Homo sapiens: one gene and its partners. The protein of the gene in region 1 purifies or fractionates together with the protein of each later gene. This does not show direct contact. Each region holds a gene or a part of one and is shown in the gene's direction. Other genes may lie near its edges. The genes, in order: MST1R, TMEM67, PLXNB3, POLDIP3, PNPT1 and NT5E.

Region 1 (3,500 bases):
AGGCTGGAGTGCAGTGGCGCGATCTCGACTCACTGCAAGCTCCGCCTCCCAGGTTCATGCCATTCTCCTGCCTCAGCCTCCCAAGTAGCTGGGACTACAGGCGCCTGCCACCGTGCCCGGCTAATTTTTTGTATTTTTAGTAGAGATGGGGTTTCACCGTGTTAGCCAGGATGGTCTCGATCTCCTGACCTCATGATCCACCCGCCTCAGCCTCCCAAAGTGCTGGGATTACAGGTGTGAGCCACCGCGCCCGGCCTATTTTATTTTTTCAAGATGGAGTCTTGCTCTATCACCCAGGCTGGAGTGCAGTGGTGCAATCTTGGCTCACTGCAACCTCCCCCTCCCAGGTTCAAGCAATTCTCCTGCCTCACCCTCCCTAGTAGCTGGGATTACAGGCGCCCGCCACCACACCTGGCTAATTTTTGTATTTTTAGTAGAGATGGGGTTTCACCATGTTGGCCAGGCTGGTCTCAAACTCCTAACCTCAGGTGATCTGCCTGCCTTGATCTCCCAAAGTGCTGGGATTACAGGCGTGAGCCACTGTATCCAGCCTATTTATTTATTTATTTATTTATTTATTTATTTATTTATTTTTGAGACAGAACCTCACTCTGTCACCCAGGCTGGAGTGCAGTGGCATGATCTCAGCTCACTGCAACCTCTGCCTCCCGGATTCAAGTGATTCTCCTGCCTCAGCCTCCTAAGTAGCTGGGATTACAGACGTGCACCACCAAGCCCGTCTAATTTTTGTATTTTTAGTAGAAATGGAGTTTCATCATGTTGGCCAGGCTGGTCTCAAACTCCCGACCTCAGGTGATCCGCCCGCCTCGGCCTCCCGAAGTGCTGGGATTACAGGCGTGAGCCATCGCACCCGACCCTGCTTTATTTACTTATTTATTTATTTTTATTTTTTTGAGACAGAGTCTCACTCTATTGCCCAGGCTGGAGTGCAGTAGTGCAATCTCGGCTCACTGCAACCTCTGCCTCCTGGATTCAAGCATTTCTCCTGCCTCAGCCTCCTGAGTAGCTGGGATTACAGGGGCCTGCCACTGCCACCACACCTGTCTAATTTTTGTAGTTTTAGTAGAGACGGGGTTTCATCATGTTGGCCAGACTGGTCTTGAACCCCTGACCTCAGCTGATCCTCCCGCCCCAGCATCCCAAAGTATTAGGATTAAAGGCATGAGCCTTTTTTTTTTTTTTTTAATTTAAAAAAAAGACAGCATCTCACTATGTTACCCAGGCTGGCCTTGAACTCCTGGGCTTATGCGATTCTCTTGCCTCAGCCTCCTGAGTAACTGGGATTACAGGCGCACTGCGCTTGGCTTCTGCTGCTTTTCTTTGAGGGGGATGGAGTCTCGCCCTGTCTCTCAGGCTGGAGTGCAGTGACACGATCTTGGCTCACTGCAACCTCTGCCTCCCGGGTTCAAGCTATCCTCCTGCCTCAGGCTCCCAAGCAGCTGGGACTAGAGATGGGGTTTCACCATATTAGCCAGGCTGGTCTCAAACTCCTGACCTCGTGATCCACCCGCCTTGGCCTCTCAAAGTGCTGGCATTACAGGTGTGAGCCACTGCACGCAGCCCTGCTGCTTTTTTAAAATGTCAGATTGGGCCGGGTGTGGTGGCTCACACCTGTAATCCCAGCACTTTGGGAGGCCTAGGTGGGTGAATCACAAGATCAGGAGTTTGAGACCAGCCTGGCCAACATGGTGAAACCCAGTCTCTACTAAAAATACAAAAAAATTAGCTGTGTGTAGTGGCAGTTGCCTGTAATCCCAGCTACTCAGGAGGCTGAGGCAGGAGAATCACTTGAACCTGGGAGGCAGAGGTTGCAATGAGTTGAGATTGCACCACTGCACTTCAGCCTGGGCAAGAGTGAGACTCGGTCTCAAAAAAAATAAATAAAAATTAAAAATAAATAAAATGTCAGATTGGCCAGTTTAGTGCTCTGAGGTCTGGTTGCCAATGAGAATGTGTGGTGTGAGCCTTGGGCCCTGGATCCCCTCTCATCGACTCATTATGCACCTCACACCAGGCCACTTTGGAGTTGTCTACCACGGAGAATACATAGACCAGGCCCAGAATCGAATCCAATGTGCCATCAAGTCACTAAGTCGTAAGTGGGGCAGAAGATGGGAAGGCAGAGGGAGGGGCCTCAGGCTGGGAGGATTCTTTTTCTCTGTGTTCCCACCTTACTGAGTGACCCTGAGCAGGAGACCTTCATTTCCCATTTCCCCATCTGAGCCTTATAAAGGGACGCCCTGCCCTGTGCCTGACTTGCGCTGCTCTGCAGGCATCACAGAGATGCAGCAGGTGGAGGCCTTCCTGCGAGAGGGGCTGCTCATGCGTGGCCTGAACCACCCGAATGTGCTGGCTCTCATTGGTATCATGTTGCCACCTGAGGGCCTGCCCCATGTGCTGCTGCCCTATATGTGCCACGGTGACCTGCTCCAGTTCATCCGCTCACCTCAGCGGGTCAGTGTTCATCTGGCTCTGGGTTGGGGGCTGGGCAGCAGCTGGAGAAGGAGCTGCTGTGCCCTTGCCCACCAACCCACCTGTGCCCCCAGAACCCCACCGTGAAGGACCTCATCAGCTTTGGCCTGCAGGTAGCCCGCGGCATGGAGTACCTGGCAGAGCAGAAGTTTGTGCACAGGGACCTGGCTGCGCGGAACTGCATGTGAGAGTCCAGAGTAGCTGGGGTGAAGCAAAAGGACAGGGCATGAGGGTGTGCGGTGCTCAAGGCCGCCTCAGGGAAGGGCCCACTCCAGCCTTGTCCTCCCCTCTCTGCACCTTACTTTTTTTGTCTGCCCAGTGCAGACTTGGACTGGACACTGTGGCTTTGAAATTTGGCCAGGCGCGGTGGCTCACGTCTGTAATCCCAGCACTTTGGGAGGCTGAGGAAGGCGGATCATGAGGTCAGGAGATCGAGACCATCCTGGCTAACACGGTGAAACCCCGTCTCTACTAAAAATACAAAAAGATTAGCCAGGCGTGGTGGCGGGCCCCTGTAGTCCCAGCTACTCAGGAGGCTGAGGCGGGAGAATGGCGTGACCCCAGGAGGCAGAGCTTGCAGTGAGCGGAGATCGCGCCACTGCACTCCAGCCTGGGTGACAGAGCGAGACTCCGTCTCAAAAAAAAAAAAAATTCTGTAAGGGCCTAGAACAGGTGGGTTCAGGGCCTGGTAAGGGCCAGTCCTAAGTGTGATCCTCTCCCTACCCCTAAGGCTGGACGAGTCATTCACAGTCAAGGTGGCTGACTTTGGTTTGGCCCGCGACATCCTGGACAGGGAGTACTATAGTGTTCAACAGCATCGCCACGCTCGCCTACCTGTGAAGTGGATGGCGCTGGAGAGCCTGCAGACCTATAGATTTACCACCAAGTCTGATGTGGTGAGGCCCCACCTGCCCTACAGTCCACATGGCTTTGGCACCCAAGAACACTGGGCCTCACCCATTCAGCTCTGAATGATCTGAGCCCAGGGAGTCCCCAGGGTAGATGAC
Region 2 (3,500 bases), on another chromosome or scaffold:
TTATAGGCATACACCACCACGCCCAGCTAATTTTTGTATTTTTAGTAGAGACGAGGTTTCACCACATTGGCCAGGCTGGCCTCAAGCTTTGGCCTCAAGTGATCCACCCACCTTGGCCTCCCAAAGTGCTGGAATTACAGACGTGAGCCACTGTGCCTGGACTAAATTTTTTAGGTATTTGAATTTTTAAAAATTAGAATAGAGTTTTAGAACAGGTAAGATTAACCTATTAACTGACCGTTGATTCAATCTTTTTGTGTTGTGTTGTGTTTTATATTTGTAAATGGAAAAACGAAATGACAAATAATTATGAAAGAGGCATCCATTTGAATTAAAGATCCTGAAGAAGAGAGAACTATTATCCGGAGTTAATCCTTTAATAGTTTTCAGGACATAGTGATAATATAGAGCTTCATTTTGGAATATAAGCATGAATTATCTCTCCAGGGAATTTTTATGTGGCTCATATATGTATGATTTATTTGAATATTCACTGTAGTTACATACTCTTATGGCATTTTGAACTTACATGATTAGAAGAAGAAAGTTAATTAAAAAAGAGAAAAGCATTTTTTTTCTTTTAATTTAGAAAGGTGTTACAGAAGATGGCTGGAACTGCATTTCTTGCCCTAGTGACTTAACTGCCGAAGGAAAATGTCACTGTCCCATTGGCCATATTTTAGGTAAGAATTAGATTCCTTATAAAGAAGTAGTGATAAATCTTCATTCTTGTTTTTGTTTTTATTTGAAAAGGGCACTAATTTAAATAGTTAAGTGATTACTTAATATTTTTGCAGTGGCTCAAGCAATTCTCCTGCCTCAGCTTCCTGAGTAGCTGGGACTGCACACATAACACCACTGCAGCTGGCTAATTTTTAAATTTTTTGTAGAGACTGGGTCTCGTTATGTTGCTCAGCCTGGTCTTGAACTCCTGGCCTCGAGAGATCTTCCTGCCTCAGCCTCCTAAAGTGCTGGGATTATAGGCATCAGTCACTGTGTCCAGCCCTTAATAGTGTTTATAAAAATTATTTTTGTACAAATTAATGATACTTAAAACATCAGCAGGCATTGAGAAGAAAATACAAAGTTTTGTCTGAGTTTTTTAAAACTCTTAATATTGTAGGATTAGATGGTTATTTCCTTAACATAACATGACAAAATATGTCTCAACTCAAAAGCCAACTTGATACTTAATAGGGAAAAAGCGTAAGCATTCCTGTTAATGTCAGGACCTGGAAAAGGATGCAAACTATGCACTTAAGTAAGAGAAAAAAAATATTTATCATTGGAAAAGAAAAGGTAGGCCGTTGTTAATCCTAGCACTTTGGAAGGCTAAGGCAGGTGTATTGCTTGAGCTCAAGAGTTTGAGACCAGTCTGGGCAACATGGTGAAACCGCATCTCTACAAATAAAAAAAAAAATTATTTGGTTACGGTGGCATGCACCTGTAGTCCCAGCTACTCGAGAGGCAAAGGTGGGAAGATCGCTTGAGCCTGGAAGGTCAAGGCTACAGTGAGCTGAGATGGCGCCACTGCACTCCAGCCTGAGCGACAGGGTAAGACCCTGTCTCATGAAAAAAAAAAAAAAAAAAAGTAAAATATCATTGTTTACAGATGATTTGATTGTATGTTTAAAACACCCAACAGAATGACTAAAAATTATTATAAACAGTGATGGAAGAAAATACCTCATATACAGTAGCAACAAAAAAGAAAAAATAAGTAGGCATATCCTTTTTTTTAATTTTAATTTTTATTTTTGTTTTTTTTTTTTTGAGACAGAGTTTTCACTGTTGTTGCCCAGGCTAGAGTGCAATGGTGTGATCTTGGCTCACTGCAACCTCCCTCTCAGGTTCAAGCGATTCTCCTGCCTCAGCCTCCCGAGTAGTTGGGATTATAGGCATGTGCCACCACACCTGGCTAATTTTATATTTTTAGTGGCTAACAGGGTTTCTCCATGTTGGTCAGGCTGGTCTTGAACTTCCGACCTCAGGTGATCTGCCTGCCTCAGCCTCCCAAAGTGCTGGGATACAGGCTTGAGCCACCGCACCTGACCTTGGCATGTACTTTAGAAGGAATGTACAACATAATTGAAGAAATTTGTGAGTATTACTGAGGGATATGAAGGCAGGCTTTTAAGTGAAAATGCATTCTTTATTTTTGGATGGGAAGATTAAATATTAGAAAGATGCAACTCTTCTACCAGTCTGTATATTTTAAAGGACCCTAATAAATTCTATCAGGATATTATTTGTTTGTTTTGGGGTAATATACAAATAGAGTCTGAAGTTTAACAGGAAAGTTATATGAAAAGCTAAGAAAATTCTGGGAAGGGAAAGAAGGAACTACCCCATCAGATAATATGCATGTTATATAGCTACTATAATCACATATATGACAGGCTTATGGATACACAGACTGATTGATGGAACTTAAAACAGGCAATCAGAATAGATTCAATTCATATAGGAATTTGGTATGTGAAAAAAGTGGCATTTCATATAAGTGGGGATAAAACTGATTAATGATGCTGGGAAAACTGAGAAAACACCCAGGTTGGGTTTCTACCTTATTTCTGAGAAAATTAAACTCCAAATGAGTCAAATACTAAATATGAATATATGAAAGTTCTTAAAGAAAATGCAGGAAAAATTTGTATAGTTTTGGTTTAACAGGCCTAAGTATGACCAAAAATACTCAGTCACTTTGGAGGCCTAGGTGGGACGATTACTTGAGCCATGGAGTTCCTGACCAGCCTGGGCAATATAGAGAGACTCTGTGTCTACAAAAAAAAAAGAAAAAAAGAAAAACCACAGAAGAAAAAATTGGTAAATTTATAAAATGCCATAAAAATTATAATACCAAAAACCAAACTACAAACTAAAGAAAAATATTAATGCATACAATAGACAGAGGTCGAAGTTCTTCAATAAATGTAAAGCTCCTACAGATAAATAAAAGTAAGATGAATAACCCAATTTTTAAAATAGCCAAGAGTCATAAATAAAGTTCACATAGAAAAAAATATTTTAACGTGAGAAAAAAATGTTCAACTTTACTCAGAGTAAGAAAATGTACGTTAAAGCTAAAATGAGATTTTATTTTTAACCTACCAGATTTTATTATAAAATTTTTTCGACCGGGCACAGTGGCTCACGCTTGTAATCCAGCACTTTGGGAGGCCGAGGCAGGTGGATCACCTGAGTTCAGGAGTTCAAGACCAGCCTGACGAATGTAGTCGCTATTAAAAACTCAAAATTAGCCTGGCATGGTGGCACATGCCTGTAATCCCAGTTTCTTGGAGGCTGAGGCAGGAGAATTGCTTGAACCCAAGGAGGTGGAGGTTACAGTGAGCCAAGATCACGCCATTGCACTCCAGCCTGGGCAACAAGAGTGAAACTCCATCTCAAAATAAAAAAGAAACTTTTTCAACTTTGACAATGTATTTATAAGGATACAGGGAAATAGTTATTCGTGTATTAATGGGAAAAATTTTAAGTTG
Region 3 (3,500 bases), on another chromosome or scaffold:
AGACACGGCGCCTTGGGGATGTGGCCGAGGTGCTGTACCAGGCTGAGGACCCTGGTGACGGGCAGTTTGTGGCTGCCAATACCCCGGGAGTGGCAACGGTGGGGCTGGTGGTGCCCTTGCCCGGCCGGGACCTCCTGCTTGTGGCCAGAGGCCTGGCGGGCAAGCTGTCGGCAGGGGTGCCACCCCTGGCCATCCGCCAGCTGGCCGGGTCTCAGCCCTTCTCCAGCGAGGGCCTGGGCCGCCTGGTGGTGGGCGACTTCTCCGACTACAACAACAGCTACGTCGGGGCCTTTGCCGACGCCCGCTCCGCCTACTTCGTGTTCCGCCGCCGCGGGGCCCGGGCCCAGGCTGAGTACCGCTCCTACGTGGCCCGCGTCTGCCTGGGGGACACCAACCTGTACTCCTACGTGGAGGTCCCCCTCGCCTGCCAGGGCCAGGGCCTCATCCAGGCCGCCTTCCTTGCCCCGGGCACCTTGCTAGGGGTGTTTGCCGCGGGCCCAAGGGGCACCCAGGCGGCGCTCTGTGCCTTCCCCATGGTGGAGCTGGGTGCCAGCATGGAGCAGGCCCGGAGACTCTGCTACACGGCGGGCGGCCGGGGCCCCAGCGGCGCAGAGGAAGCCACCGTGGAGTACGGCGTCACGTCGCGCTGCGTCACCCTGCCCCTTGTGAGTGGCATGCCCTTCCATCCCCCCTCTCTGTGGATGGCTGGCATCTTTCAGCACTGGACAGGGGTGCCTGCCCATGGGAAGTGCCAGCCAACCTCTCAGCCAGGGGTCAGCTGAGTCTCCAGGTCTCCTGCCTGCTCTCCACCCATTTCTTTCCACCTTTCTCCCTCTGGATGCTATGAGCTTGCCAGGTGCCCTGGCCCTTCGGCCCTGATTGCTGGGCCTTGGGGTCATCCCAGGGTGCCTGGCTCTCCTCCCGCTGGCAGCCTGGGTACCCCCCCTGACTGCCTCTCTGCTCTCTTCCGGGGGCTGATTCTCCACTTCCTGCCACGTAGGATTCCCCCGAGTCGTACCCCTGTGGCGACGAGCACACCCCCAGCCCCATTGCTGGCCGCCAGCCCCTGGAGGTCCAGCCTCTGCTGAAGCTCGGGCAGCCGGTCAGCGCCGTGGCAGCTCTCCAGGCAGATGGGCACATGATAGCCTTCCTGGGGGACACCCAGGGCCAGCTGTACAAGGTGAGGGCCCGGCCTTGCTGTCCGGCTGGGTGTGCCCCTGGCCACGGAGGCTCAGGAAAGCCCCCAGCAACTTCCACCTCTTAGCCCGCATCCCACGGTTGGGTCAGGGGACTTTGCCACACAGTGACTGCTGGCTGAGCACTGCCCCCTGCAGCCCGGCCTTCACCAGCTGGTGGTGGCTCACGGTGAAGGTGGCTGGGGTGGCTGGGTGAGGTGGGCAGGGTGTGGTGCCTCCTGGTGACCTTCCTGTCTCCCCATAGCTGCCCTCCCACCTGGCAGAACTGTCCCTGGTACACGGGGCCTCACCCAGGGTGCCGCTGCTGCCCCGGTGTCATGGTTCCCTGGAGAGTGTCCTAGGCCTGAGGGTGCTGAGTGGGGGAAGTGATGTGTCCTCCCTCGATGGCCCGGCAGGAAGGGGAACTGGCTCTAAAAAGGAGCCCCCACTAGGAGGAGGGCGTGTCCCTGGAACAGGCAACCTTTGGCCATCTGGCCCAGCCTCGTCCTTGTCCCCCCACTCAGGTCTTTCTCCACGGCTCCCAGGGCCAGGTTTACCACTCCCAGCAAGTGGGGCCTCCAGGCTCAGCCATCAGCCCAGACCTGCTGCTGGACAGCAGTGGCAGTCACCTCTATGTCCTGACTGCCCACCAGGTGAGGGCCATCCTGGGGCTGAAGGGGCCAGCACACGCGGCCCAAGTCTCGTGCCCATTGCCTCTCTGCTCTGCTGCCCCTCCAGGTGGACCGGATACCTGTGGCAGCCTGCCCCCAGTTCCCTGACTGTGCCAGCTGCCTCCAGGCCCAGGACCCGCTGTGTGGCTGGTGTGTCCTCCAGGGCAGGTGAGCACGGGGCCTGTGCCTAGGCTAGGGCCAACGGGTGGTGTGTGCCACGAGGCTGCCCCTGGAAGTAGCCCTAGGCGTGCCGGGAGGCCAACCCTGCCTGTTGGAGAGACTCAGGGCCACCACGGAGGTCACCCATCCTGCCCCATCTCACTGAGCCGTCAATCTGGTTGGCACCCCCCTTTTCCGACACCACCCGGCCTGTGGACTCCTCATCCCAGCAGCCCCAGCCAGGGTCCAGAACCCCACACAGCTGTCCTCCAGCCGGTGCTCCACACGGCAGCCCCTGGAATCCTTTAAGGCAGCCCTGAGTCACTGTGCGTCCCTCAGCCCAGCCGCACCTGCCTCTCAGGGCTGGAGCCCACGCCTTGGCCATGAGGCCCTGCCTGCTTGGCCCCTTTCTCTCTGGACACAGTCCCCTTCACGCCTCCTGCTCATTGCACCCCACTGCACTCCAGCTGGGCCGGCCTCCCCAGGCCCCTGTTGCCGGTCATCCTTGGAGTCTAGGACCCCCACGGTGACCTGATGGACCCCTGCCTGGCAGGTGTACCCGGAAGGGCCAGTGCGGGCGGGCAGGCCAGCTGAACCAGTGGCTGTGGAGTTATGAGGAGGACAGCCACTGCCTGCACATCCAGAGCCTGCTGCCGGGCCACCACCCCCGCCAGGAGCAGGGCCAGGTAAGCCGCCCACCACCACTGGGCCCTCTGGGCAGCATGACCACTGCCTGGAGCATGAACCCCGCCTGCCTCCCGTCCTCCTTCCTCTCCCATGGCCTCTGCTGCCCCCTCTCTCTGGCTACATCTCCCGGTTTCTCCCCGCTGCATCCCAGGTCACTTTGTCTGTCCCCCGGCTGCCCATCCTGGATGCAGATGAATACTTCCATTGTGCGTTCGGGGACTATGACAGCTTGGCTCATGTGGAAGGGCCCCACGTGGCCTGTGTCACCCCTCCCCAAGACCAGGTGCCACTTAACCCTCCAGGCACAGGTGAGTGGCCCATGGGGTAGGGGGCTGGGATGGAGGCTGGAGGGGTAATGAGCCACCTGACCTGTCCTGCCCCCACTGTCCCCTCCCAGACCACGTCACTGTGCCCCTGGCCCTGATGTTCGAGGACGTGACTGTGGCTGCCACCAACTTCTCCTTTTATGACTGCAGTGCCGTCCAGGCCTTGGAGGCGGCTGCCCCGTGAGTCCCTGGGCCTGCCTCCTGGGGTAGGGGTGGCGACCCCAGAGGGCACTCAGTTGAGCAGCCACCCTGCCCCTCTAGGTGTCGCGCTTGCGTGGGCAGCATCTGGCGGTGTCACTGGTGCCCGCAGAGTAGCCACTGCGTGTACGGAGAGCACTGCCCAGAGGGCGAGAGGACCATCTACAGCGCCCAGGAGGTGGGTGGGCCCGAACTTCGGGCAGAGACAGGGCTGTCCCTTCTCCACCCTTCCCAGACCCGCCCAGCAGTAGGCCCTTTGAGTTCTGAAGGGCTGAGGGCTCTTG
Region 4 (3,500 bases), on another chromosome or scaffold:
TGGTGTGATCTTGGCTCACTGCAGCCTGGACCTCCTGGGCTTAGTTGATCCTCCTGCCTTGGCCTTCTGAGTAGCTGGGACTACAGATGTGCATCATCACTTGCAGCTAATTTTTTTTTGGGGGGGGGGGTAAGGTTATAGATTAACAGCATCCCAAGGCAGAAGAATTTTTCTTAGTACAGAACAAAATGAAGTCTCCCACGTCTACTTCTTTCTACACAGACACAGTAACAATCTGATCTCTCTTTTCCCCACATTTCCCCCTTTTCTATTCGACAAAACCGCCATCGTCTTCATGGCCCGTTCTCAATGAGCTGTTGGGTACACCTCCCAGACGGGGTGGCGGCCGGGCAGAGGGGCTCCTCACTTCCCAGACGGGGTGGTGGCTGGGTGGAGGCGCCCCCCACCTCCCGAACAGGGCGGCTGGCTGTGCGGGGGCTGCCCCCCACCTCCCTCCCAGACGGGGCGGCTGCCGGGCGGAGACGCTCCTCACTTCCCAGACGGGGCGGCTGCTGGGCGGAGGGGCTCCTCACTTCCCAGACGGGGTGGCCGGGCAGAGAAGCTCCTCACCTCCCAGACGGGGTGGCGGTCGGGCAGAGACACTCCTCAGTTCCCAGATGGGGTCGCGGCCGGGCAGAGGCGCTCCTCACATCCCAGACGGGGCAGCGGGGCAGAGGCTCTCCCCACATCTCAGACGATGGACGGCCGGGCCGAGACGCTCCTCACTTCCTAGATGGGATGGCGGCCGGGAAGAGGCGCTCCTCACTTCCCAGACTGGACGGCCGGGCAGAGGGGCTCCTCACATCCCAGACGATGGGCGGCCAGGCAGAGACGCTCCTCACTTCCCAGACGGGGTGGCAGCCGGGCAGAGGCTGCAATCTCGGCACTTTGGGAGGCCAAGGCAGGCGGCTGGGAGGTGGAGGTTGTAGCGAGCCGAGATCACTCCACTGCATTCCAGCCTGGGCAACGAGCACTGATTGAGCGAGACTCCGTCTGCAATCCCGGCACCTCGGGAGGCCGAGGCAGGCAGATCACTTGCGGTCGGGAGCTGGAGACCAGCCCGGCCAACACAGCGAAACCCCGTCTCCACCAAAAAATACAAAAACCAGTCAGGCATGGCGGTGCGCGCCTGCAATCCCAGGCACTCGGCAGGCTGAGGCAGGAGAATCAGGCAGGGAGGCTGCAGTGAGCCGAGATGGCGGCAGTACAGTCCAGCCTCGGCTCGGCATCAGAGGGAAACTGGGGAGAGGGGGAGGGGGAGGGAATTTTTTTTGTATCTTTTGTAGAGACAGGGTTTTGCCATGTTGCCCAGGCTGGTTTCGAACACCTGGGCTCAAGCGATCTGCCCGCCTTGGCCTCCCAAAGTGTTGGGATTACAGGCATGAGCTACTGCTCCTGGTGTTTTTTATTTTTTAGAAGTTTTTTTCTTAACTCTTCCAGCTCTGCTGTTTACTCTTGACCCATGCTTATTTAATTGATGCTTGAACCAGGTACAGTGAAGTTCAAGTCCATTCCTCACCCCTTAGTAGCTCTTGGGATAGTTAATCTCCTTGGTTCTGAGTTTCCTCATTTATAAGATGTGAACAATAACCTGATTCACGGGGTTGTAACATTTAAAGGACGTCTAAAGCTGGGCATGGTGGCTCCATACTTAGAAGGCTGAGGCAGGAGGTCAAGGCTGTAGTGAGCTATGATCACTGCACTCCATCCTGAGCAGCAGAATGAGATTCTGTCCTTTTAAATTTTTTAAAATATGTTTTTGAGACAGGGTCTTGCTCTGTTGTCCAGCCTGGAGGACAGTATCTCGATCCTGGCTCACGGCAACATTGCAGTCTGGGGCTCAGGTGGTCTTCCTGCTTCAGCCTGTGGAGTAGACTCATGCTGCCATGCCCAGATAATTTTCTGCTTTCATTTTTATAGAGATGGAGTCTCACTATATTGCCCAGGCTGGTCCTGAACTCCTGGGCTCAAGCCATCCTCCTGCCTCAGCTTTCCAAAGTGCTGAGATTACATGGTGTGAGCCACCATGCCCAGGGAGTCTCGCTATGTTGCCCGTGCTGTTCTCGATCTCCTGGGCTCAAGCCATCCTGCCATTTGGCCTCCCAAAGTGCTGAGATTACAGGCATGAGCCACTGTGCCCAGCCTTGTTTCTTAAAAAAAAAAAAAAGTCTGTGTGAAAAATTGTCAACCTGTAGTGAGTAATACTCAGAAGTTTTCATTGATCATGTCCTTTATTTTTTTTGAAACAGAGTCTTGCTCTGTCGCCCAGGCTGGAGTGCAGTGGTGTGATCTTGGCTTGCTGTAACCTCCATCTCCTGGGTTCAACTGATTCTCCTGCCTCAGCCTTCCGAGTAGCTAGGATTATAGGCGCGTGCCACCACGTCTGGCTAATTTTTGTATTTTTAGTAGGGACGGGGTTTCACCATGTTGGCCAGGCAGGTCTTGAACACCTCACCTCAAGTAATCCATCAGCCTCGGCCTCCCAAAGTGCTGGGATTACAGGTGTGAGTCACTGTGCCTGGCCTAGCTGCAAGTTTCTGAGGTCACCCCAAAGCATAGTCCCAGTTTGTCTATGGCTTTGTAGGCCATGGAACACGAAGCCTAGGGTAGCCCAGTCCTAGGGAGGGTGGATGCCATCTACCACATACAACCATTTCTTTCTAATCGTGCATGCCGACCCCCTGAACACTCCCTTCCTTTGGCCCTGCTTTCTCTAGTGCCTCCATCTCCCAGAGTCCTCACATTAAAAAAATAGGACAGGAATGGCCAAGTAAACCTTAAGCCTTATCTGATTAATTGTATAAATGACCCTTCTACCCAGAACCCACTGGAAAATCTTTAAATCTGAATTTGCCACTCCAAAGAGAAAAATGATAGCATGCATCACTGCCTGTTTTAGTCCGTTTAGGCTACTATAAGAAAATACCCTAAGCTGGGTAACTTATAAAAAACAGAAACTGCCGGGCGCAGTGGCTCACGCCTGTAATCGTAACGCTTTGGAGGCCAAGGCAGGCGGATCACGAGGTCAGGAGATCGACAGCATCCTGGCTAACACGGTGAAACCCCATCTTTACTAAAAATGCAAAAAATTAGCCGGCCGTGGTGGCGGGCGCCTGTAGTCCCAGCTACTTGGGAGGCTGGCGCAGGAGAATGGCATGAACCCGGGAGGCGGAGCTTGCGGTGAGCCAAGATTGCGCCACTGCACTCCAGCCTGGATGACAGAGCAAGACTCCATCTCAAACAAAACAAAACAAAACTGAAGAAAAGAAACTTCCTTGTCACAGAGAGTCTGGGAAGTCCAGGATCAGGATGCTGGCAGATTCCATGTCTGATGAGGGCCTGCCTGCTTCCTGGTTGTAGATGGTCTTTTTGCTGAGTCCTGACATGGTGGAAGGGGCCAAGGAGCTTTCTGGGGCTTCTTCCTTATAAAGGGCACTAATCCCATTTGTGAAGTCTCTGTCCTCATGACTTAATCACTTCCCAAAGGCCACCACCTTCTA
Region 5 (3,500 bases), on another chromosome or scaffold:
TACATTAAAATTTTAGTGATCGGCTGGGCGCGGTGGCTCACGCCTGTAATCCCAGCACTTTGGGAGGCCGAGGCGAGCGGATCACAAGGTCAGGAGATCGAGACCATCCTGGCTAACACGGTGAAACCCTGTCTCTACTAAAAAATACAAAAAATTAGCCGGGCGTGGTGGCGGGCGCCTGTAGTCCCAGCTACTCGGGAGGCTGAGGCAGGAGAATGGCATGAACCCGGGAGGCGGAGCTTGCAGTGAGCCGAGATCGCGCCACTGCACTCCAGCCTGGGCGACAAAGTGAGACTCCGTCTCAAAAAAAAAAAAAAAAAAATTTTAGTGATCATGGTAAGATAAACATTAATATATGAATGAATATTACTGCTTTTAAATTGTTTTTACCCAGTGCACAAAACGAAAATATTTTAAATACTTTTGTAGTTAAAATGCTTTAAATTTTAGGGAATATTCTTTAACAGTTTTCAGTAATTTTAATCATCTACTTTTCTGTTTTATAGTAAAATATTTTTACATGTGTCTAGGTCAAAAAAAAAAAAAATCTCAAGTGACCATGGCATGTTTTAGGTTCATGTATGTAGTTGAATTGTTTATATATTTGTCTGTATTACGTTCCAGAAACTGTTCAGGTTCCATTATCAAAACGAGCAAAATTTGTTGGACCTGGTGGCTATAACTTAAAAAAACTTCAGGCTGAAACAGGTAAGAGTTGTATGAAGTTTGGGGTTTTTTAATTAAATGCTAGACCATAAAAGTTTGCTATTTCATCTCTAGTATGTTGCTTTAAATATATATTTATTTGAGAAATGAGAGAAAGACCAGGAGAAAAGGATATGACGTGTCTTGACTGTGAGTTTTCTGTGTGCCTATTAATAAATTAGCAAATGGTCATTCTTAACTAAATTCAAGAAGGATTACAAAGAATTCATCAGGACTTTTTTGCAACATTTTATAGTTGAACATCTAGAATAATTTTTAGTTTTTAACTTTAGAGGAATTATTACTTAGTTATTTCTTTTTATTCTGCTACTTTCACTTAGTTTTATTTTAACTCTTTTATTTAAAGAGTATATAAAAAAAAGCTTTAATTTATTTTTCCTGAAGCAATGTTTGAATTACCTCGTACTTCAAGGTTTGAGGTTACTGCAAGAGAGTGAGAAGCACTGTCACCTTAGCCATTTGCTAACACTGAGAAACTGATGTGATTTTGTCCCTTATTCATTTATTCACCCCTCGTAAGAGTAAGCGGGAGAAAGAAAAAAAGTAAGGAAAGGGTTCTATTATAGTTTCTACTCGTAATTAAGAGAGCAGAACCAGACTCTCCAAAATTTGTATAGATATATTTGATTTCACTAGATGGTGAATTTCAAGAAATCAAGCATATTGGCTCACCATTGTATCCCCAGGGCCTACCTAGTATAATGCCAGGTACCTAGCAAGTATGCAGAGTGTATTTGTTGATGAATGAATTCCTTCATTCCTAAAGTAATGATTAAATACAGCATAACTCCACCCAGCTACTAATAGGTCCCTCCTATTCTCACATCTATTTTTAAGACGAGTTTCCACTGGAATGAGCAAGTTAACTTTTTTTTTTTTTGAGATGGGGCCTTGCTCTGTCACCCAGACTGGAGTGCAGTACACAATCACAGCTAACTCCAGCCTTGACCCCTGGGATCAAGTGATCCTCCCGACTGTGAGTCCCAAGTAGGTGGGCACATGCTACCAGGTCCAGCTAATTTTTGAATTTATTTTTTGTAGTAACAGGCTCTCCCTATGTTGCCCAGGCTGGCCTTGAACTCCTGAGCTCAAGTGATCCTCCCACCTCAGCCCCCCAGAGTGCTGGGATTACAGATGTGACCCACTATGCCCAGCCAAGTTAACTTTAATATGTTACATTTTGTTTTTAAAAGGTGTAACTATTAGTCAGGTGGATGAAGAAACGTTTTCTGTATTTGCACCAACACCCAGTGCTATGCATGAGGCAAGAGACTTCATTACTGAAATCTGCAAGGATGATGTAAGTATAGATCATATTAATTACGTATCATATAGCTATATTTGTTTTTTCTACTTTTTGTTGATGTTTTCTTTATGAATCTTATGGCTTATTTTGCACTTACAGCAGGAGCAGCAATTAGAATTTGGAGCAGTATATACCGCCACAATAACTGAAATCAGGTAATATCAAGTAATATACTATGCTGAGCATTTTCCTTTCTTTAGAGACAGGGTCTCACCCTGCCACCCACAGTGGGATACAGTGGTGCCATTGTACCTCACAGCTGCCTTGAACTCCTGGGATCAGGCAGTTCTCCCACCTCAGCCTCCTATTTAGGACTACAAGCACACACCACCACACGTGGCTGATTTTTTAATTTTTTTGTAAAGACATGGTCTCACTATGTTGCCCAGGTTGGTCTTAAACTCCTGGCCTCAAGCCATCCTCCTGCCTCAGCCTCCCAAAGTGCCAGGATTACAGGCATGAGCCACCGTGCCCAGCCCTGTTTTGGTTTTTAACAGATTCCTATTATAATCCCAATTTAATTTTACATTTACTTTGAAATCATAAGGTGTTTAGATTACATGCCAATTGCCATATAATCATTATTTTTTAAGGTATAGTATATTTTGTTTTCTATATCATTTTATAAAATTAAAGTAGCAGTTCTGTGGTTCTAATTATGATAGGTTCTCTTAACTGAATTCTTTTTTTTTTTTTTTTTTTTTTTTGGGACAGAGTCTCGCTCTGTCACCCAGGCTGGAGTGCAGTGGTGCGATCTCAGCTCACTGCAAGCTCTGCCTCCCGGGTTCACGCCATTCTGCCTCATCCTCCCCGGTAGCTGGGACTGCAGGTGCCCGCCACCACGCCTAGCTAATTATTTTTTGTATTTTTAGTAGAGACGGGGTTTTACCTTGTTAGCCAGGATGGTCTCGATCTCCTGACCTTGTGATCCGCCCCCCTCGGCCTCCCAAAGTACTGGGATTACAGGCTTGAGCCACCGCGCCCGGCCAACTGAATTCTTTAACCAAATTTTCTACTAGTAATTGGTGAAACCCCAAATTAATTTTCCCAGTAAATATTAAATAGGCCCAAAATAGACTTAGCAATATTTCTTTATTTCTTTTTTTTTCTTTTGATGGCTTATTTTAAACATATCTGAATGCTTAATTGGCACATATTTTTAAATCCAATTTCGGCTGTGCATGGTGGCTCACGCCTGTAATCCCAGCTCTTTGGGAGGCCAAGGCAGGTGGATCAGGAAGTGGGGGGTTCGAGAGCAGCCTGACCAACATGGTGAAACCCCATGTCTACTAAAAATACAAAAGTTAGCCAGGCATGGTGGTGCATGCCTGTAATCCCAGCTACTCAGGAGGCTGAGGCAGGAGAATCGCTTGAAGCCGGGAGGCAGAGGTTGCAGTGAGATGAGATCGCACCACTGCACTCCAGCCTGGGCGACAGAGCGAGACTCCATCTCAAAAAAAAAAAAAGC
Region 6 (3,500 bases), on another chromosome or scaffold:
GGAAAAACCCTCCCAGCTACATAGGGAAATCACGGTTTTGGAAGATGAGCAGAAAAGGGTGGGAGGGAGAAGACAAGAGAGAAGAGGGTGAGGAAAGAGGCCAGGCAGCAGTCCAAGTGTGAGATGATAACACCTGAACTCTGGTAATTGAGGAGACCAAATCCACGGGAACCAGCTGCAAAAGGCATTCTGTCTGGTAGGTATAGGGCTAAGGGAGTAAACGTGGGGGTGAGACTGGGATCAAGTCCCCTTCCTACCACTTAGAATCTGTGGACTGGGAGCAGGTTATTTAATCTCATGAAACCTCCATTTCCACATGTGTGAGGTATGTGATTGTTGTCTCCACCCCTAGGGTGCTGTGGGGTTTACAAGAGATAGTAGTGCACATAATGTGCTTAGCACAGGGCCAGCCCCTAGTAAGTGCCGGCTGTACTTGCCTTCTCTTTGCAGGGGTGGCTCAGGAGAGGGTGTAATCAAAAGATGATTATGAGGGTTCAAGCACCAGGCAATGGGAGAGTCAGCAGGTTTTAATGCTTCCACACAGAGGCTGGATTCTTCTACTTCCGCTTACCGCTGACAGCTGAGGCCTGCTACCTCAAGCCCTGAAATGCAGTCTGAAGACTTTTCCTGGACTTACTGGGCACCATTGGACTGTACAGGGCTGTGGCAGACAGGAGCAGTGGAAAGAGATTTGGATGGGACGTCAGAACACCCAGATTTTACTTCTTGGCTCTTCCACTTACTAGCTGTGTGAATTTGGCAGTGGTTTCCTTATCTATAAAATGGGGGAATTGGAGAGGGTGGTCTACTGCATGTTACTTCTCAGCACCTCAGCTCCTCCCCACCCCTCTCTCTTGCTTCTAATCTGCCTACATCACTTGGTTTGTCTCTGGACAAGTCTAAGTTTGCATGACAACTCTCTAATTTCTCCTTCACAGTTATTTATTTATTTTTTGGCAGCTATTTCCTTGTGGAGAGATAGCGTAGGTCTTTCAGGTGCTTCCATTTGGCCACTGTTTGCAGGTGAAGAGGTTTCCAGGATGCTCGCGGGATGTTACTCTGGTAGTAACAGAAATGATGGCCTGGGGAATGGGAAGAGTATGAGCCCAGTTTTGAGCCTGAGTCTTTGGGGCTCATTTATTCATTCAATCTGCAAATCTTCATTCAGCATTACTACATGCCAGGCTCTCTGCTAAGTGCTGAGGATAGCGATCAGGACCTGCTAGGGTGAAAATTACTCTTCAGAAGATAGCAGAGTGGATAATGGCCATTCGAGTTCCTCTTAACTACACAGAGGGACTGGGTAAGATCTATAAAGGAGAGAGGTTAAACAGCAAAGCAAAAGTGACTGAAATTCTAACACCCATGCATGGGGATTCTTGAGCTAAAGATCTGGTCTGTAGAAGAAGACACATCAGACCCTCATATTTAGCATCTAAGCCGAAATCAGCAGTAAGCATGTTTCTTCTCCCATAAAAACTTGTCCCTAAGAAGAGAGACAAGTGCTTACAAGGACTCTTATGTTAAAGGAAACTGTCACAATTACTTTATCTTCAGTCATGAAGCCTTTCTTGAGGAAAGAAAAATTAGCAATACTAGTTTGGGAAGCTTGAAAGAGAGATTCTGTTTGCAATGACACTTTTAAAAAGGCAACAACAACCAAAAAAGTAATTATTCCTAAAGCTCAGGTGTCAGAAGTTGTGAATGTCTAGGGGGTTGTGGATCCCCAACCTCAGAGACAGGAACAGCACCACTCCCATCCTGGGGCTGTGGCCTCAGGCCTCTGCTTCCTCTTTTTCAGTCTAAATTCCAGAGCAGAGAGGTGCTGGATGACCAGCTTCAGGCAGGGGAGGGAGGAAGTAAAGGTAGTTTCTCAGCTCATCTTGTCCTCGTACTATTAATAGCATCTGTTGTTTTCTTAACTGAAAATTGGAGAGAACCAAACAAATCAACATCATATTGGCGGCTTTCTGCACATCACTCACAAATACATCTGAATGCTCTGTACTCTCCAGTGTTTATTTTCCTCAGCCACATAATCGGAATTTGAACATTCTTTTGACACTTCTTTTCCCTCACTTGAATAATTAGTTCTATATATAATCCAAATATTAGCTGGAGCCCTCTAGCCCCTCAGAGATATAGTTGAACCTTCCTGGACCTCAATTAGTTGGGCAGTTAATTCTGAATGTTGATGTGCCTATTTTGCACGTATGGAGAGTTTGTACGTCCCCCCTCCCCAAACAAGTAGAATGCTGTCTATTTGGTACTTGCTCATTCATACATTCTTTCAACAACCAAACCCAGTTGCAGCTGGGTTGAACCCCAGGGTGTTTCCTGCTATTCAGTGTGATGCCACATTCACCTGCTGTGGCCAACATTCCTTGGCCCAGGACTGCAGGGATGGAAGCCAACCCAACATCAGAAGTGGGCAACAATGCCAGAAACCTATCAACCAAAACAAATGTAATTTGTAATCCTCCCTGGATGATGTTGAGTGATTGGCAACTGAGCCCCGTCATATAGTAAATCAGGCTGTCTCTCTTTAAAAAAGAGAGACAGAGAGAGAGAGAGTCTCCCAATGTTGCCTAGGCTGGTCTCAAACTCCTGGGCTCAAGCAATCATCCCTTCTTGCCTCCCAAAATGCTGGGATTACAGGCATGAGCCACCATGCCCAGCCTAGGCTGTCTCTTTAGCTCTTCAATTATAGGGCTTCCTGCAACCTCAGCCCTTAACGAATGAGCTAGCGTGTAAGTGACTAGCTAAATAAATGTGCTGCAAACCTCTGACAAATGGCTTTTTGACATTATTAAAATTTATTTATGTGGAACAAAAAAATTCTTTTCTTCTGCATCATGCATCCTACACTGCTTTTAAAGAAACTCTGCTATCCTTTGTTTTACCGTCTAACATTTCTTTGTTTCCCTTCTGACATGTTTCAGCCTCTTGTCATCACTTGGAACATTTTTACTGCCTCATCCCTCTAGTTTCCATTTCCTAGCCTAGCCCAGCCCAGTATTTTTGAAACCCAAATACCTGGAATTTTGCCTGATGTTTAAAGCCAAAACCAAATGAAAATGTGAAGAACCAAAGGAGATTTTATTCTTCTGTGACTCAAAATCCTGTTGTTATTGTTAAATGAACCCTGTGGGATACAGTCTGGTATTTTTAACACCTTCTGGGGGTATTTGTCAATATTTACATTTGATGTGGATAGCTTATAAAAGTCCAGTGGCTTTGGGTAAACCCTGTTCACTAAGAATAAGACCCAGAAGGTCATATGAATCAACGATCAAAGAATGAAGATATTCTGAATCCAAGTTTCTTGTTTTGATTATTAAAAATACCTTGCAATTAGTTAGGCATGAGAGAAAGCTTGTGTATAAAGTTTGGCTTGTAATTCACATGAATTCTCTATACAGGCCAAAAACTACCTTCCCTTTGGGAATATACAATGACCTTATTTGGAAATTACTTCAGGTAATTATGAAGTAATAATA

Evidence for each region.
Region 2: the proteins of MST1R (region 1) and TMEM67 fractionate together in Homo sapiens (co-fractionation; one large-scale study listed by BioGRID). This does not show direct contact.
Region 3: the proteins of MST1R (region 1) and PLXNB3 purify together in Homo sapiens (co-immunoprecipitation; one study listed by IntAct). This does not show direct contact.
Region 4: the proteins of MST1R (region 1) and POLDIP3 purify together in Homo sapiens (affinity purification with mass spectrometry; one large-scale study listed by BioGRID and IntAct). This does not show direct contact.
Region 5: the proteins of MST1R (region 1) and PNPT1 fractionate together in Homo sapiens (co-fractionation; one large-scale study listed by BioGRID). This does not show direct contact.
Region 6: the proteins of MST1R (region 1) and NT5E fractionate together in Homo sapiens (co-fractionation; one large-scale study listed by BioGRID). This does not show direct contact.

What each region holds. Positions count from the first base shown.
Region 1 is NC_000003.12:49,890,374-49,893,873, reverse strand, and holds part of MST1R (macrophage-stimulating protein receptor isoform 1 preproprotein), read left to right. Parts: intron 1-2,035; coding exon 2,036-2,116; intron 2,117-2,293; coding exon 2,294-2,475; intron 2,476-2,567; coding exon 2,568-2,677; intron 2,678-3,223; coding exon 3,224-3,389; intron 3,390-3,500. UniProt on the Homo sapiens protein: Receptor tyrosine kinase that transduces signals from the extracellular matrix into the cytoplasm by binding to MST1 ligand. Regulates many physiological processes including cell survival, migration and differentiation.
Region 2 is NC_000008.11:93,757,894-93,761,393, forward strand, and holds part of TMEM67 (meckelin isoform 1 precursor), read left to right. Parts: intron 1-589; coding exon 590-683; intron 684-1,966; coding exon of another isoform or gene 1,967-2,100; intron 2,101-3,500. UniProt on the Homo sapiens protein: Required for ciliary structure and function. Part of the tectonic-like complex which is required for tissue-specific ciliogenesis and may regulate ciliary membrane composition.
Region 3 is NC_000023.11:153,767,249-153,770,748, forward strand, and holds part of PLXNB3 (plexin-B3 isoform 1 precursor), read left to right. Parts: coding exon 1-665; intron 666-1,000; coding exon 1,001-1,180; intron 1,181-1,699; coding exon 1,700-1,828; intron 1,829-1,913; coding exon 1,914-2,014; intron 2,015-2,558; coding exon 2,559-2,691; intron 2,692-2,843; coding exon 2,844-3,000; intron 3,001-3,089; coding exon 3,090-3,198; intron 3,199-3,279; coding exon 3,280-3,394; intron 3,395-3,500. UniProt on the Homo sapiens protein: Receptor for SEMA5A that plays a role in axon guidance, invasive growth and cell migration. Stimulates neurite outgrowth and mediates Ca(2+)/Mg(2+)-dependent cell aggregation.
Region 4 is NC_000022.11:42,604,884-42,608,383, reverse strand, and holds part of POLDIP3 (polymerase delta-interacting protein 3), read left to right. Parts: intron 1-3,500. UniProt on the Homo sapiens protein: Is involved in regulation of translation. Is preferentially associated with CBC-bound spliced mRNA-protein complexes during the pioneer round of mRNA translation. Contributes to enhanced translational efficiency of spliced over nonspliced mRNAs.
Region 5 is NC_000002.12:55,641,845-55,645,344, reverse strand, and holds part of PNPT1 (polyribonucleotide nucleotidyltransferase 1, mitochondrial precursor), read left to right. Parts: intron 1-624; coding exon 625-708; intron 709-1,919; coding exon 1,920-2,026; intron 2,027-2,131; coding exon 2,132-2,187; intron 2,188-3,500. UniProt on the Homo sapiens protein: RNA-binding protein implicated in numerous RNA metabolic processes. Catalyzes the phosphorolysis of single-stranded polyribonucleotides processively in the 3'-to-5' direction. Mitochondrial intermembrane factor with RNA-processing exoribonulease activity.
Region 6 is NC_000006.12:85,456,583-85,460,082, forward strand, and holds part of NT5E (5'-nucleotidase isoform 1 preproprotein), read left to right. Parts: intron 1-3,500. UniProt on the Homo sapiens protein: Catalyzes the hydrolysis of nucleotide monophosphates, releasing inorganic phosphate and the corresponding nucleoside, with AMP being the preferred substrate. Shows a preference for ribonucleotide monophosphates over their equivalent deoxyribose forms.